Regions from separate parts of the Homo sapiens genome. Here region 1 is linked to region 2. The links come from fine-mapping of genetic effects on gene expression. A gene starts in region 2. The other region holds a variant in brackets. All regions are shown on one strand. Distances are between the middles of the regions.

Region 1 (2,923 bases), 92 kb after region 2:
CTGGGCCCCGCAAAGTGCTGGGATTACAGGCGAAAGCCATGGCGCCTGGCTAAGGAATTTCTTCATCTGATAAATGGTAGCTCACACACACACACACACACACACACACACACACACATGCTCGTAAAGCAATTGGAGAGACACTGAAAGCTTTTCCTTTGAGAATAGAAGTGTACACTGATGGCTGCTGTTGCCACTTCTAATTCAACACTGTACTGAAGGTTCTAGCCAGTGCTAGGGGGGAAAATGACTGAAAAGGAAAAAATACAATGTATTATTTTCACATGATATAACTGTGTACTATAAAATCCAAAAGAATCTATAGATAATTTAGTAGAACTAATAAGTGAGTTTAGGCTGGGCACAATGGCTCAGGCCTGTAATCCTAGCATTTTAGGAGGCAGAGGCTGAGGCTGGCAGATCACTTGAGCCCAGGAGTTTGAGACCAATCTGGGCAACATGGCAAAACCCCGTTTCTACAAAAAAATAAAAAAATTAGCTGGGCATGGTGGCACCTGCCTGCAGTCCTAGCTACTCGGGAGGCTGATGTGGGAGGGATTCCCTGAGCCCAGGGAGGTTGAAGCTGCAGTGAGCCATGATCGCATCACTGCACTCCCGCCTGGGTGACAGAATGAAACCCTATCTCAAAACACACAAACAAACAAACAAACAAAAAGTGAGTTTAGTCAAGTTGCTAAATACAAGATTAATGAATAAAATGAACTGCATTTAAATCAACAACATTTAGAAAATAAACATTTTAAAGGGATATCATTTAAATAACCACAAAATATCAAATATCTAGGAATAAATCTCATCAAAAATATGCAAGCTTTCTACACAGAAAATGAGAAAACATTGTAAAGAGAAATGGAAGGAAACCTAACTGAATGAGAGAACATCTCTCTTCATGGGTTGGATGGGTCAATATTGTAAAGATTCAATTCTCCCCAATCTATAGATTCAACGCAATTCCAAACAAATTTCTATCAGGTGTGTGTATTTGACCAGCTGACTCCCAAATTTTTTTTTTTTTTATACTTTAAGTTCTAGGGTACATGTGCACAACGTGCAGGTTTGTTACATATGTATACATGTGCCATGTTGGTGTGCTGCACCCATTAACTCGTCATTTACATTAGGTATATCTCCTAATGCTTTCCCTCCCCCCTCCCCCCACCCCATAACAGGCCCTGGTGTGTGATGTTCCCCTTCCTGTGTCCAAGTGTTCTCACTGTTCAACTCCCACCTACGAATGAGAACATGCGGTGTTTGGTTTTTTGTTCTTGCGATAGTTTGCTGAGAATGATGGTTTCCAGCTTCATCCATGTCCTTACAAAGGACACAAACTCATCCTTTTTTACAGCTGCATAGTATTCCATGGTGTATATGTGCCACATTTTCTTAATCCAGTCTGTCATTGATGGACATTTGGGTTGGTTCCAAGTCTTTGCTATTGTGAATAGTGCTGCAATAAACATGCGTGTGCATGTGCCTTTATAACAGCATGATTTATAATCCTTTGGGTATATACCCAGTAATGGGATGGCTGGGTCAAATGGTATTTCT[C/A]GTTCTAGATCCTTGAGGAATCGCCACACTGTCTTCCACAATGGTTGAACTAGTTTACAGTCCCACCAACAGTGTAAAAGTGTTCCTATTTCTCCACATCCTCTCCAGCACCTGTTGTTTCCTGACTTTTTAATGATCGCCATTCTAACTGGTGTGAGATGGTATCTTATTGTGGTTTTGATTTGTATTTCTCTGATGACCAGTGATGATGAGCATTTTTTCATGTGTCTGTTGGATGTATAAATGTCTTCTTTTGAGAAGTGTCTGTTCATATCCTTCACCCACTTTTTGATGGGGTTGTTTGTTTTTTTCTTGTAAATTTGATTGAGATCTTTGTAGATTCTGGATATTAGCCCTTTGTCAGATGAGTAGATTGCAAAAATTTTCTCCCATTCTGTAGGTTGCCTCTTCACTCTGATGGTAGTTTCTTTTGCTGTGCAGAAGCTCTTTAGTTTAATTAGATCCCATTTGTCAATTTTGGCTTCTGTTACCATTGCTTTTGGTGTTTTAGACATGAAGTCCTTGCCCATGCCTATGTCCTGAATGGTATTGCCTAGGTTTTCTTCTAGGGTTTTTATGGTTTTAGGTCTAACATTTAAGTCTTTGATCCATCTTGAATTAATTTTTGTATAAGGTGTAAGGAAGGGATCCAGTTTCAGCTTTCTACATACGGCTAGCCAGTTTTCCCAGCACCATTTCCCAGCACCATTTTTTAAATAGGGAATCCTTTCCCCATTTCTTGTTTTTGTCAGGTTTGTCAAAATCAGATGGTTGTAGATGTGTGGTATTATTTCTGAGGGCTCTGTTCTGTTCCATATCTCTATATGTCTATATCTCTGTTTTGGTACCAGTACCATGCTGTTTTGGTTACTGTAGCCTCGTAGTATAGTTTGAAGTCAGGTAGCGTGATGCCTCCAGCTTTCTTCTTTTGGCTTAGGATTGACTTGGCAATGCGGGCCCTTTTTTGGTTCCATATGAACTTTAAAGTAGTTTCTTCCAATTTTGTGAAGAAAGTCATTGGTAGCTTGATGGGGATGGCATTGAATCTATAAATTACCTTGGGCAGTATGCCCATTTTCACAATATTGATTCTTCCTACCCATGAGCATGGAATGTTCTTCCATTTGTTTGTAACCTCTTTTATTTCGTTGAGCAGTGGTTTGTAGTTCTCCTTGAAGAGGTCCTTCACATCCCTTGTCAGTTGGATTCCTAGGTATTTTATTCTCTTTGAAGCAATCGTGAATGGGAGTTCACTTATGATTTGGCTCTCTGTTTGTCTGTTATTGGTGTATAAGAATGCTTGTGATTTTTGCACATTGATTTTGTATCCCAAGACTTTGCTGCAGTTGCTTAT
Region 2 (2,923 bases):
ATACAGGCCAACTTCATTCCTACCTCAAGATCTGCACTGGCTCTTGGTCCTGCCTGGAATATTCTTTCCCCAGAGCTTCCAAGTTAATTCCCTTGTTCCTTCAAATCTCCACTCAAAGATCTCCTCAACGGAGGCTCTAGTACCATGTGGCACATTTCTTATAAAAGTCATAGCTAGAAAAGACGCTGTCTTGCCTCAAATTGTTAAACGTAACAGCAAAACAGGTTTCCTCTTTTCTGTGATTTAACGCAAAAACAAACAAAAACTCCTGGCTAAATTCTGTGACCCGCAGCATCATTTATCTTTAGGTTCTCCTTTAATTCTTATTATTTAACTCTTGATCTTTTACATTCCTTTACAGCTTTATGGTTTGCCTTCATTGCACACCTACAAAAAGTGATTTCTAGGTTAGCTGAGTATATAACCAAGACTTTAACCCACAGCAATCAGCGCCTTTGCACACAGCCACTCCAAAAAAAAATTTTGATGAATATACAAATGAGTGAATAATGAATTGTGATAAGACATCTGGAAAGTTTCAGGGACGTGAGGGAAAAGGGTTTTGCTCCAGTAGACTGACTTCATACCGACACTTTTACGTAAGAATGGCAAGAATTATTGTCAAACGAAAAAATTAACTTCATCGAGCCCAGAGTCCACTTCTCTAATCATAAATGTCATTAAAAAAAAAATCCTTTCAGCCAAACTACAAATGCCAACCATGCTCCCAAGAAATAGAGGAGGTTTTTCTCAGGAGCTGTAGGGAGTGGAAAGGGCAAGACAGGAGTCTGGGGTAACGCGGCTACCGTGTAACAGAGAAAAGAGACGGAGAATCTCAATACCGGAGCTGAGACGCAGCATCAACAAGAGCCTGGGTCCCTGTCCGGCGGTGCGGGGAGAAGGCGGGTCAGCGGGGACCCGAAGTGGCCCAGCTCCCCTAAGAAGAGTGGAGGAAGCAGAAATGGGCTCTCTCACCTCTAACGCCGCCTGGGGGTCCTCGTCGATTAGGGCATCCGAGAAGCTCTGGAAAAACCTGTCAGGAAAACAACGACTTCAGCAGGGCTCACTAGCCAAGGAAAGGGGGATAAAATAAATACCAAAGGGAAAGAAAAACATGCACCTCTGGGATGTTGCAGTTCCTGCTGCAGCCGCCGCCATCCCTCGTAGTCGCTGTTGCTGCCGCCGGAGCTGCTACTATCACGGTTACCACCTCCACCACCGCCCAAGGGGGAAACTTCTGGAGAAACACCAACCGAGCTTCCGTCCTAAATAGCCAGCGAGCAGCCACGCAGCGTGCTGCTAGGGGGACGGGAGGCGACACGCCGGCGCGGGGCCGGCTGGGACAGTGGAGGACCGATTCCTCCCAGCCGCACCCCGGCCCAGGACCCGCGCTCCCAGTCCCCGCCCCTCGCAGCCATGGTTACGGAGGCCTGGGGCGTACACGTTCTTCCTCCCTTCCACCGCGCCCACGCCAGCGGGCACTCCCACGGAGCTTTCAGTAGTACTTTAGAAGCACTTTTGTAACGTACTGTCATCCCTAAGGAACGTGTGGCGGTTAGGGGCGTTTGTATGTCTGTTAATAACGGAAGCTACTTCGAGCTCCCATTTTCCCTAGTTTTTATCATGGCTGCCACAGCTAGCCAAGCCCTTTCGCCTCCATTACGTCTTTAGCGGCTGCGTGGTCTCTTCCGGGAGCAGAGGCCCGGATGACGCGTGGATCCCCGCGATCTTTGGGCTGGGGATTCTAAACGACTGGGACTTGCCGGAAGTCATTCTGCACTAATAGCGGCAAAAAGCCTTCTGGTTCCTGGGGCGACGCGCCCGGCGGCCGTACTATTCACTTCCCCAGAACGCCACAGCCCAGGCTTTCTTCTTAGTGGGCTTCCCAGACCAAGAAGGGAAACCTTTCATCCGAAGGTACTGAGGGGAGGAAGGTGGCCTGAAGTTATCTCAGTGCCGCTTTGTTTCCCACCCCAGTCGGTCAGCCCTTCCTCAGCGCCCTTTAACCCTTGCAGATCGGATGGAGAAAGCTGCCAGCACGTTCTAGGGATGGGGGCAGATTGAGGAGCGGGAGGGAGTAGTCTTTGTCTAACTTTATACCAGTACCAAACTATGTTAATTTAATGTAGTTTTATAATAAATCTTTAAGTCCTGTAACTTATTCTCCCAAGATTGTTTTGGCTTATTCTACGGCCTTTGTATTTCTAGGTGAATTTTGGAATTAGCTTGTTAAAAAGGGGGGGGATTTTTTATTGGGCTCGCATTGAATCTATAGATCTGTTTGGGAAAACTAGTATCTTAACAACAAGTCCTTCAATCCATGAATATCATTCTTCCCCCACCATTTATTTAAGCGGTCTTTAATTTCTCCTGGCAATATTTTGTAGATTGCACATATATCTATATTTTAATGCAGCTGTGCTTGGATAGATTGCAGTATAGAGATCATATATATCTTTCATTAGATTTATTCTTGAGTATTTAGTGTTTTGTATACAATGTTAAATGGCATTTTGACTTTTTTATATTCTACTCGTAAGAATAAACAATATTGATTTTAACATACTGACCTTATATGCAAGCATCTTGCTAAGTTCCCTTGTTATTTGTAATACTCTGTAGATTCTTTCGGAATTTCTGTGATCAAAATCTTGCAATCCACGAATAAAGATGGTTTAACTTCTCTGTAACCTTTATACCTTTTATTTTTATTTATTTTTGCCTTTTGTTGCTGGCTAGTGTTTCCACTATTGAATAAAAACAGTGATAATGGACTTCCTTGTCTTGGTCATAACATCAGGAGGAAAGCATTGAATATCAACTGCTTTTTCTGCCTTTATTGAAATGTTCATTTGTATTTTTTAATGTTACTGTGAATTACCTTGGTTAGTTTTCAAATGTTATCTAAATGGCCAATTGTCCT

Alleles and levels. Alleles are on the strand shown, and positions count from the first base shown. SD is a standard deviation of normalised expression in the study named.
As copies of C replace A in region 1, the expression in lymphoblastoid cells of the gene that starts at base 1,243 in region 2 goes up (small effect, 0.15 SD a copy in GTEx).

The links. PIP is the estimated chance that this variant, and not a neighbour inherited with it, causes the effect. A credible set is the group of variants that fine-mapping cannot tell apart.
Region 1: its variant is the best candidate, but not a certain one, in a credible set for the expression of SUGT1 in lymphoblastoid cells (GTEx, PIP 0.89).

What each region holds. Positions count from the first base shown.
Region 1 is chr13:52,558,770-52,561,692 of GRCh38, reverse strand. All of the region lies in intron 2 of LINC00345 (long intergenic non-protein coding RNA 345), which reads left to right. It also overlaps the pseudogene TPTE2P3. Among named protein-coding and RNA genes, the nearest start is that of LINC00345, 40 kb to the left of the region's middle. The variant C/A (reference allele first, on the strand shown) is at 1,570.
Region 2 is chr13:52,651,156-52,654,078 of GRCh38, reverse strand. It overlaps SUGT1 (SGT1 assembly cochaperone of MIS12 kinetochore complex), which reads right to left and starts at 1,243. Exons shown (of 13, transcript NM_006704.5): 1 at 1,121-1,243; 2 at 976-1,033. The coding sequence starts at 1,158. SUGT1-DT (SUGT1 divergent transcript) reads left to right here and starts at 1,772. Exons shown (of 1, transcript NR_170300.1): 1 at 1,772-2,774. RefSeq lists enhancers at 763-882, 992-1,493, 1,603-1,942 and a silencer at 1,243-1,512.